Regions from separate parts of the Homo sapiens genome. Here region 1 is linked to region 2. The links come from fine-mapping of genetic effects on gene expression. A gene starts in region 2. The other region holds a variant in brackets. All regions are shown on one strand. Distances are between the middles of the regions. Region 1 overlaps MTA1 (metastasis associated 1). Region 2 holds the start of MTA1 (metastasis associated 1).

What was found. PIP is the estimated chance that this variant, and not a neighbour inherited with it, causes the effect. A credible set is the group of variants that fine-mapping cannot tell apart.
Region 1: its variant is the best candidate, but not a certain one, in a credible set for the expression of MTA1 in whole blood (Lepik 2017, PIP 0.77).

The regions. Positions count from the first base shown.
Region 1 is chr14:105,460,194-105,465,551 of GRCh38, forward strand. It overlaps MTA1 (metastasis associated 1), which reads left to right. Exons shown (of 21, transcript NM_004689.4): 9 at 165-264; 10 at 572-760; 11 at 2,991-3,065; 12 at 3,300-3,358; 13 at 3,839-3,954; 14 at 4,223-4,374; 15 at 4,481-4,670; 16 at 4,901-4,990. Among named protein-coding and RNA genes, the nearest start is that of CRIP2, 12 kb to the right of the region's middle. RefSeq lists enhancers at 4,061-4,583, 4,584-5,105. The variant G/T (reference allele first, on the strand shown) is at 2,719.
Region 2 is chr14:105,417,120-105,422,477 of GRCh38, forward strand. MTA1 (metastasis associated 1) reads left to right here and starts at 2,708. Exons shown (of 21, transcript NM_004689.4): 1 at 2,708-2,944. The coding sequence starts at 2,917. MTA1-DT (MTA1 divergent transcript) reads right to left here and starts at 2,620. Exons shown (of 2, transcript NR_125385.1): 1 at 1,903-2,620; 2 at 462-1,190. RefSeq lists enhancers at 905-1,574, 4,253-4,920, 4,921-5,358 and silencers at 2,272-2,371, 2,402-2,451, 2,542-2,801.

The sequences.
Region 1 (5,358 bases), 43 kb after region 2:
GTCCGTGCTGCCCATGGCCCCTGGTCCCTGGCACCTGGGGAGTGGTGTGCCTTGGGGGAGTCCGTGCTGCCCGTGGCCGCTGGTCCCTGGCGCCTGGGGAGCGGTGTGCCTGTGGGGAGTCCCTGCTTGGCCGACACTGTGGTCAGCGCATCTCCTTTCCCCAGCTCTGTGGGCACCTTCGCACGGGCCCTGGACTGCAGCAGCTCCGTCCGACAGCCCAGCCTGCACATGAGCGCCGCAGCTGCCTCCCGAGACATCACCCTGGTAAGTGGGCCCAGGGCGGGACAGGTGAGACCTGGGGTGGCCCATGGCCCAGAGTGGCTGCGCCCTTCTTCCTACCAGGGCCCAGCACCTGCCCCAGGTATTCAGGACCCCTGCAGAGGTGCTGTCCCACCTGGACTGGCCTTTCCTATCCACCCCAAACTCGGCCAGACTGTGCTGAGGGTGCAGGGAGGGTTGTGCTGCTGGGCCTGCAGTAGGGGATCCTTGAGGTACTGAGGGAGGGGGTACCGTGCCACAGGTGCAGGAAAAGCCACCTTGGCCCGGGTGACCCTGCTGTCTCCTGCCGCAGTTCCACGCCATGGATACTCTCCACAAGAACATCTACGACATCTCCAAGGCCATCTCGGCGCTGGTGCCGCAGGGCGGGCCCGTGCTCTGCAGGGACGAGATGGAGGAGTGGTCTGCATCAGAGGCCAACCTTTTCGAGGAAGCCCTGGAAAAATATGGGAAGGATTTCACGGACATTCAGCAAGATTTTGTGAGTACCGTGGGTGGCGATGGGGGAGTGGCTGGCCATGCCCATCTCCAGGTAGGCTGCGGGGGTGTGGGCTCCACATCCCACTCTGCCCTGAGGGAGCCTGTCCTGCACCCTGATTCCCTGTGCGGAGCTGCATGAGTTCTGTCTCAGCTGCGCTCGGCCGCCATAGTCCTTCCTGTCACACTGGTTCAGCAGACAGGCATGGGGGCGCTGGTGGGGCCTGGGCATAGAGAGCCATGCTCCTGCCACCATTGCGTGATGAGGATAAGGGTTGGCCCAGGTGACGGAGGCCAGGGTATCCTCACGGAGACTTTCCCTTCCTTGCTGCCCCCTCCAGCCCCAGGCTTGGTTTTGCTTTGTTTTTGACTAAGCTGAACCTCTTGACTCCTCATGTCCTTGTTTTCTGTCTCACGTGAGTTTAGCCCAGCAGCAGGCCTAGAGAGTCTTCATGGCGTGGGGTCTCCCTTCCCTGTACCTCCACCTCAGGACCCCCACCCTCCAACCGTCAGCCCTCCTAAAATACTTCTAAATTAATCTGTTAGAAGAGCATCCCTATGTGGGGGTGGTGGGGCCCCCAACCATCAGCCCTGGGGAGGTGGAGACTGTGGCAGGGCAGGGAGGAGCCCCAAAGGGGCCGGGACACAGCGGGGTGGCTAGTATCTGATGAAAGCACCATCCGGGCAGCAGCGCACAGGCCAGCGCAGCAGAGGCTGGAGACGCATCTGGAATTCGGAAGAAACAAACATGGGGTTGGGTAGGGTGCCTAGACCTGAAGAGGAGGAGGGACAGCAGCCAGCTGTGAGGCTCCTGAGGACGCATCTGCTGGGGGCAGGAGTGCAGCTTTGTGTGGGGGCCTCTGGCCAAGGGGAGAGCTTGGCCGGGCGGGAGGAGTCCCTGACTGTCCCTGGGGCCAGCGGCCTCTCCAAGGCGGATACGGATCTCTCCAGGCTTAAAAACAAACCAAGATGAGCAGAACATGTTCAGACAAGAGGACGAGGGCTAGAAACAAAATTCACCAACTAGGCTCAGACCAGGGCGGAATTTGAGGGAGACCCTGCTGCACATGGTTCCAGCGGAGGAGACCCCAGTGCTGAGCCCACGTGATGCCTAGCGAGGCAGCGCTCAGGGGACTGCGGCTGCGGGGCCATGCCCAGGCACGGTCTCGGGGGGCTGCGGCTGCGGGGCCCTGTCCAGGTGCGGGGATGGGAGGCTGCAGCTTCGGGGCTGTGTCGAGGGAGCAGGCCCCGCTCTCCTTCCTGCCAGATGCAGTGGACCAGACTGAGGAACTATCTGAACCCTTATTTAATAAGACAGGTTTCTTAAATCCATGCCACAGCCCGGGCGCAGTGGCTCATGCCTGTAATCCTAGCACTTTGGGAGGCCGAGGCAGGAGGATCATGAGGTCAGGAGATCAAGACCATCCTGGCCAACATGGTGAAACGCCATGTCTACTAAAAATACAAAAATTAGTCGGGCATGGTGGCAGGCTCCTGTAGTCCCAGCTACTCGGGAGACAGAGGCAGGAGAATCACTTGAACCCCCGGGGGTGGAAGTTGCTGTGAGCCGAGATCGCACCACTGCACTCCAGCCTGGGCGACAGTGCGAGACTCTGTCTCAAAAACAAAAATGGCTGAGATGGCCGGGCATGGTGGCTTATGCCTATAATCCCATTTGGGAGGCCGAAGTGGGTGGACCACTTGAGGTCAGGAGTTCGAGACCGGCCTGGCCAACATGGTGAAACCACGTCTGTACTAAAAATACAAAAATTAGCCGGGTGTGTTGAGAGGTGCCTGTAGTCCCAGCTACTCAGGAGACAGAGGCAGGAGAATTGCTTGAACCCGGGAGGCAGAGGTTGCAGCGAGCCGAGATTGTACTACTGCACTCCAGCCTGGGTGACAGAGCGAGACTCCGTCTCAAAAACAAACAAAAAAAAGGCTGAGATGGAGGCTGGGTTGTCA[G/T]TGCCACCTCGGCAAGATCTCGACCTTGACCTTGTGCCAGCTCCTCTTCCCCTGGCGTCACTGTGTTTTGGCATCTGGCGGGGGGACCTGCTTCATCAGCTGCCCTCTGCACCTGCCTGCCAGCAGGGGCCTGGCCTCCGTGCACCAAGCACACCTCGCCCTCTGGCCTCCCGCCCCCTCTGTGGCCTTCTGGCCGCAGCCCTGCCCCTGCCTGCATGGTGTGCCTGCCTCCTGCCCCTTCCTGCTTGTGTGACACGCCTCCTCCCACCCAGCTCCCGTGGAAGTCGCTGACCAGCATCATTGAGTACTACTACATGTGGAAGACCACCGACAGATACGTGCAGCAGGTGAGCCCGCCCGCCACTCAGTGCCCGGGGTGTGCCGCCTCCCCGTCCTGCGCCCCATCCTCTCCCAGCAGGTGGGCGTGCACTGCTGCAGCAGGAGGGGAAGGAAGACTCCTGAGTCCCTGGCCCGGCTGTCCTCTCCGTGGTGCTCTCCTCTCCGTAGCCTCCAGCCTGTCTGCACTGCAGCCCCAACCTGGGCCTAGCCTGCTGACCTCTGACCTTCTCTTTTGTTTTAAGAAACGCTTGAAAGCAGCTGAAGCTGAGAGCAAGTTAAAGCAAGTTTATATTCCCAACTAGTAAGTGTGCCCTCACAGCCGTCGTCCTCGTGGCCCCGGGGGCCAGGGAGGGTGGGCACAGGGTGCTGGGGCCAGGCGGGTCCCAAGGAAACTCAAGCTCAGAGGCTGGGAAAGTTGGGGCAGCCCCCGGGAGGGCGGCCCAGGGCTGGGGGGTTCTGGCTGCAGACGCAGTGGCCATGTCTCTGTCGTCCTGGCCTCCTGGTCAGTAAGGGGGCATTGGGATTCCAGCCCACACCGCCAGGGTTCAGTCCCTGAGCTGGGCTCCATGCTAGGGGGAGCACGGGGGCCTGGAGAACGGCTCAGACCTCAGCAGTGGCTCCCAGGAACTGAAAGGGGAGAAAGGAAGATCCCTGCCGAGGCCGAGGGGTGCGAGGACGTGGTTCTGGACAAGGGGTGGTCAGCCGCGGTGCCTGCTGGGCACATGGGCCCTCGAGGTTTGTGCTCCTGCAACTCCTCTCGTCTCTCCTTTCCCTCTTTAAGTAACAAGCCAAATCCGAACCAAATCAGCGTCAACAACGTCAAGGCCGGTGTGGTGAACGGCACGGGGGCGCCGGGCCAGAGCCCTGGGGCTGGCCGGGCCTGCGAGAGCTGTTACAGTAAGTGCCCTGGATGGCCGGGGGCACACCGCACGCCCGCCTGTGGGCCGTGGTGCCTGCGTTGGCCCTGAGGGCTCCAGCATGGCCCAGCCTGCAAGGGGCCCACTGACGATGGGGGCTGCGTCCCAGGGGTGTGGTTGGGAGAGCCTCGGGGAACGTGTGGGGGTGCCTGGCGGGTGGGGGCGGCCGGCGTGGGGGTGGCGGGGAATACTCTGACATCGCTGGTTCTGCTTAAGAATCCGTCTATTTCCAACTTTGTTGTCCGTAGCCACACAGTCTTACCAGTGGTATTCTTGGGGTCCCCCTAACATGCAGTGTCGTCTCTGCGCATCTTGTTGGACATATTGGAAGAAATATGGTGGCTTGAAAATGCCAACCCGGTTAGATGGAGAGAGGCCAGGACCAAACCGCAGTAACATGGTAAGGGGGGGGACACCCGCCCTGCCTGCCATGAGCCTGTCGGCCACGCGGGTCCTCGGCCCCCGGTCATGGCGCTGTGTTGGGGCGGTTGCGCCCCCTTCCGCAGAGTCCCCACGGCCTCCCAGCCCGGAGCAGCGGGAGCCCCAAGTTTGCCATGAAGACCAGGCAGGCTTTCTATCTGCACACGACGAAGCTGACGCGGATCGCCCGGCGCCTGTGCCGTGAGATCCTGCGCCCGTGGCACGCTGCGCGGCACCCCTACCTGCCCATCAACAGCGCGGCCATCAAGGCCGAGTGTGAGTCACCCCAACGCCCCGCTTACTCTGTTCCTGCGGGTGGTGGGGAGAGAGCAGCAACCTTGGGGCCCAGCCTGTAGCCCCACTGGGAGTTCTGATCTCAGGGAGCCCCACGTCCTCCTCGGTGCTGACATGGCCGAGCCCAGTGAGGGCTCCCAGGTCAAGGCGCAGGCAGGGTCCCGTGCTCCCCTGGGGGTGCCCCACCCCTCACACCGTGTGGTACCCCGCAGGCACGGCGCGGCTGCCCGAAGCCTCCCAGAGCCCGCTGGTGCTGAAGCAGGCGGTACGCAAGCCGCTGGAAGCCGTGCTTCGGTATCTTGGTGAGCAGCCAGGCGTGCTGGGGGGCTCCCAATGCTGCCTGCAGGCAGCTTCTCACCCAAGCTCATGCACTGGTGCTCCCAGCCTTCTCTAGCTGGGAGCTCCTGGACAGCCCCCCAGGGCCTGGAACTGTCCTTTTGGGGTACTCTGCACCGTGCCAGGCTCAGGCAGACCCACTGGGACCCAGGCTGCTCCCTGCTCCTGGGGTCGTGATGGGGCCCAGTGCGGAGTAGCGGCCGCCCTGTCTTCTGCGGGGCCAGCCTCCTCAAGGCACACCCGGGGGCTTCCCTGCCAGTCTCGCTACCCTGTTCCCTGTGTTCTGATCGTCCCTGGGGCCTGAGGGTCTGGGGTTTAGGTGGTGCACACCCCT
Region 2 (5,358 bases):
CCTTGGCCTCCCAAAGTGCTGGGATTACAGGCGTGAGCCACCACGCTCAGCCCAGTTGTGTTTTCTTCCATACTGGGTTTCTCACCGGCCCCTCACACCCTCGATGACTTGTTTTTCTGTTGTTGAATGACATGGATGTGGTCACGTGCCACCTCTCAGCAATGCTCCCACCTCAGCCTCCGGGGATATGCCACTACTTCTGTAGTGCTTTCTGACGTGAAAGCTCTTTCCTGAATGTCTATTCGCTCTGCTACTAAGTGGATGGAGTGGATGGATTTTTTTTTTTTTTTTTTTTTTGGAGACGGAGTCTCGCTCTGTCGCCCAGGCTGGAGTGCAGTGGCATGATCTCGGCTCACTGCAAGCTCCGCTTCCTGGGTTCACGCCATTCTTCTGCCTCAGCCTCCGGAGTAGCTGGGACTACAGGCGCCCGCCACCACGCCCAGCTAATTTTTTCTATTTTTAGTAGAGACGGGGTTTCACCGTGTTAGCCAGGATGGTCTCGACCTCCTGCTCGTGATCCTCCCGCCTCAGCCTCCCAAAGTGCTGGGATTACAGGCGTGAGCCACCGCACCCAGCTGGATTCTTCTTAATTCTTTGTTTTTATTGTTTGACTCACCTGAGGTCTTTGGACTTTGCCTCTGAGCTGGCTTAAGGGCAATCCACCTTGTTCACTGGTCTGGAGTGGGGAGGCAGAGTATGGGTCGGCTGGAGGAGTGGGGCTCTGTGCTCTCTTTTGAGAGTTTACTAAACGTCACTCTGCATGGTGAGGGGTGTGTCCTCTCCGCTGGGGAGGCCTGGCTTGAATTTCAGATTGCCTCCCTGGGACACCAGACCCTGTGCTGTGCTCCCTCAGAAGGACAGCCTTGACTGTCTCCACTCCAGCAGTCAGTTCTCTCCACTCCCACTGGGAGAAGGAGCAAAGGCTGGTGTCTTCAGGAGGCTCCTCTCCAGGCTGGGGCCAGGGAAGAGTGTGCATGTCACTGTCAGGATGTGTCCCAGTGGTGTGGCTGGGTTCTCAGGGTGAAGCTCGTCCATTTCTGGGATGGCAGCGGAAGCAGGCACTACACACGCAGCTTCAGGGGGCTCTCCCCATGCTTCCTAGCTGCCTGGCACTTTCTGGTGTTTCTGGCTAACTTTCTGGCCATGCCAGGAGTTGGTGGAAGGAGATCTCAGGCTGCAGCTTTGCTTTCCTGCTGAGGAGACAGAGGTAGGCTGGGGCTGTAGGACAGGGGAGGCCAGCAGCCCCACCTTCCTTCTGGAGAGACGCTGCCTGTCTGTCATTGCCCCTCTCCTGCACCTGGCCGCTGGCTGGCTGCTCTTCCCTCCCAATCACCAGCAAGCCAGCTCCTGTTCCCTGCAGCCCAGCCCGCAGGATGTGTCCTGGGACCCATAGCCCTCTCTCCCCAGAGACAGCACCGCCCTGCAGCTCGGGTTCCTGGCCCTGTGCTAACCCTGGTGGGGCTTTCCTTACTGGTCTGCTCTGCAGCCATGACATTGTGGCCACCGCTCTCCTTGGGACCCCCACCTGGCTTTCCTCCCAGCACATGCTGTTTCCTACCCACCTGGATGGTGTCCTGTGTGCTGGATTCCCCATGCTGTGTCCCCAGCATCCTGACCATGTCTGTCCCGCCTGCCTAGATCTTGCACCGTGGCCACGGGGCTCCCTCCTGATAGCCCTGAACGCTCCGCTCCATGTCCTACAGAGAGGGATGTCCCAAGTAGATGTCAGCTCCCTCCAGCATCTGAGCAGGCAGGACAGAGACCCACGGTGCTGCTCACATCAGCAGCCTGGAACCCCGAGACAGCTCCTTTTGCTCACCTCCCCCAACACTGATGTTGCACCTGTCTCCAAGCCACTCTGGGACCATCTGTTTCTCTCCATCTGGGAAGCCCCCTTCGCACCTCATGCTCTTCCTGGCTGGGGCGTCTGGGTCACTCACTGGACTCTCCTCTCCTTAGACCTGTGCACAAGCACACACGGGAAGGCATCCTGACAGGTGGTGGGAAGAGAAGGCAGCTGCCTCACTGCGGAAAGAGCACGGCCGCTCCTGGACTCCAGCCCTGTTGGGGCTGGCGGGGTCAGCAGGCGCTGGGTTCCAGCCTCAGGTGGGGTCTTTGGAGGTGGCCTCTGGGCACAGGCACCTCCTCTGCGGCCTTCTCACCAGGTCACGGTTCAGGGAGGCTTTGCCGGCTACGGAGCCTGCCCACACCAAGGCGCGCACGACCACCTGTCCAGAGATGCCACGCGGGCTGGGCGGCGAAGGCCAAGGACACGCCCTGCCTGGTGTCGGGGGCAAAGGTTAGGCCTGGAAGGGAGGTGTGGGGTGGGGACCCCGAGGCCAGGGCTGGGCCGCTGAGCTTCAGGGCCCTTGGGGGGCTCAGGGAGGAATGCCGGAGGACCCCAGCATCAGGAGGAACCCCTGGAGAGCTACGGCAGGACTCACCTGTGGGGCACAGGGAGGGATCACCAGGGAAATGGCCCTTGTGGAGGATCTCCCCTCTACCCCCAGGGCACCAGGGGAGGATCTACCAGGGGGTTCTGGTGGAAGGGCCCACCCGGGAAGCGGCGCGCGGGGAGGACTCGGGGGCGCCGAGAGGAACTGTCCGGGAAGGGGCGCGCGGGCCGCGGGCGGCGCGGGGTCGGTAACGGCCCGTGCGGTGGGCGGCGGCGCCCGAGGCCCCTCCCCGCCGCCCGCGGCCGCTCCTCCTCTTCCTCTCCCGCCCGCGCCGCGGCCCTCCCGTCCCTGCGCGGCCTCGGCGGCCTCGGCGGCGGCGGCGGCGGCGGCGGCGGCAGCAGCGCGGCCCCTTTAAACGCCTGCGGCGCCCCCCGCCCCCGCCATCGCGCCTCCATTTTCCCGGCCGCCCGCGCCGAGCGCCGCGCCCGCCCCGGGCCCCTCCGCCGCCGCCGGCCCGGACATGGCCGCCAACATGTACAGGGTCGGAGGTAAGGCCGCACCGCCTTTATGCCCGGCCCCGACCCGCCCGCAGCCCCCACCCGCCGCCGCTGCCGCCTCCCCCGCCCCTCTGCCCCGCAGGCCCCGCGCCCCCCGCCCGCCCTCGCGGCCCCCGGCTCCTTCCCGAACCGCCCCCCGCCGTGCTCACCCCAACCCAAAATGGCCCCGCGGGTCGGCCCCATCGGGGGCGGGCGGGGCTCGGCGGCCCGGGGGTGGGGGGCGGCCCACCTGTTGGGGCCGAGGGGGCGGCCGCGGGGGTGGCGGGGGGGCGCGGGGCCTGCGGGACATCCGGGGGTCCGGGGCCGGGAGCCCCCAGCGGGAGCACGTGGCCTTGGGAGGCGCCGGCTGCCGGTCTGGGAGCAGGAGTTTTGGGGCTGTGGGGTCTCCCCCGGCCCGCGGCCCTGTGCTGGGACTCCGGTGCATCCCCTCTGGGGATGGGGAGCCCCGGTGAGGGGCCACGTTCCTCCCTAGAGCCCTCCTGCAGCCTGGCCCCGGGGCTTCCCCCAGCAGGGATCCCTCAGGGGGTCTTCAGCAGGGAGCGAGCATCCCGAGCACGCCTCTAAGTCCCCCCAAACTTTTCCCTGCCTCTCGCTCACCTCAGCCCATTCGGGAGGCGCTTTGCAAGGGTTGGGGAGAGGCCGGAGGGCCTCCTGGGCAGGGGCTTCCTCCGTGGGCCCAGCCTCCTGTTGCTCGGGCCCCCCGGGCCTGCAGCTTTGAGCCTTGCCCTCCTTCGTGTGCCTGGGACTCCGTGGGGTCTTTCACAGGAAGGTGGGGGGTCGTGTGCATTCCATCATTCCATCAGCGCCTCCCTCCCCAGGACTCTGAGACCCCTCCCTGCCTGTGACCCTCTCGGGCAGGTGCTCATTACCTTTCCCACCTGCAGCCTGCGCTGCTGGAGGGAGCTGGGGTCACTCCCGCTCTGGCTTGATCCCCATGCCCCTGACCCCGAGTGCCCAGAACACTCTGTGTCTCTCGAGCGTGGCTTCTGCTGCCTTGGACGCCGTGTGGTCTGGCCGGCCAGTCCTGTGACCTTGGGGACGGTGGGAGCCCCCTACATCCCGTCTGTGAGATGGGCGGTCAGTCCGCATCAGCAGCTCTGGGCCTCCCCTGTCCTCTCAGAGGGGCGGTGGGCCTGTACCCCATCCAGCGGCAGCCCCTCCCACAGCCTCATACAGCTTTGCCAGGTCCCTGTGTGGACCCAGGTGCGCTGAGCCCACCCCACGCTCAGGGAGCAGCCTGGGTGCGGGGTCCCTCGAGGGAGGGGCCTGTTCCTTCCTGTTCTTTCTCCCCACCTGGAGACCCCCCTTCCAGCCTGACATGAGGGCCCAGTTTCTCACCCTGGCAGAGAGGATGCCTGCTGCCTGGGCTCCAGCCGGGCCCACTGCGCATGGTTTTGGGATTGGTCCCAAGAAGAGCTCTCCCTGCCCCCACCCATGTTGGGGGTGGGGAGTGGTGGCAGCTTTGGGCTCTAGGGCTGGGGACACCCCGACCCCAACTCATGCCTTCCTAGTGGCTGCATTGCTCGGCCTTCAGGCCTGCCTGCCTGTGATCTTGGCGCCAGCCTGGCTGCCCCCCCTCCAACCTTCCCATGCCTCGGTTTCCCCATGGTGTGGGTGAGGACCTCGTCTCTCAGCCGTCCTTTTGTGCCCTGTGGCAGCTGTGCTGTGGCTGATGAAAGCCAGGACCCTGCCTTGTCCCATCCCGGAGGTGCAGCTCCCCTGGGCCCCACACAGGCTTGGGAGGAGCCCTTCGTGGGGCTGCGCCGCCCTCCCCGAACCCTCTGTCCCCCTGTGCCCGCAGGCCCGTCCCAGGGCCTCACTGACCCACGCACTCCAGTGCTGTGAGGGTGGGTGGCCTGGACTCCTAGGCTGTGGCGGAGGGGCCCCACCATGCCTGGCAGAGATGCTGCTGGTCTCTTTTCCTGTGATGAGGAGCATGGGAGGTTGGGTGCTGTCTGCTGGCAGCACAGCCACGCGTGGGATCCAGACTGCTTCTGCGTGTGCAGTCCGTGGTCACTGTGGCCGGGTGTGCTCGGAGCTGTCAGGCCCCCCACGTGCCCGCCCCGAGGACTTCCTCTCCCTGCAGGTGAGACTGTAGGCCTCCCCCTCTCTACTCTGACTGTCCCTATAGGAGAAGCGGCATTTATCCCTGGCTTCTGGACCGGAACCCTGGGTTCCGGCAGGACCCCGGCAGAGCCCTGTGGTCGCAGTGGGCTGGGCATTGCAGGTTGGCTTCCTGTCTTGGTGCTCGCTCGGGGAGGTGGGCGTCTGGATTCTTGAGCCCCCAGACAAGAAAGAGGAAGGTGTGCAGTGTCTCCTGAGCAGCCTTTGTCCGTCTGTCGCCGGCTGCCTGGCACGGGCTCCATCTGGGTGGCCAGTCCTGGCCTGTGGGAGATGCCGGCAGG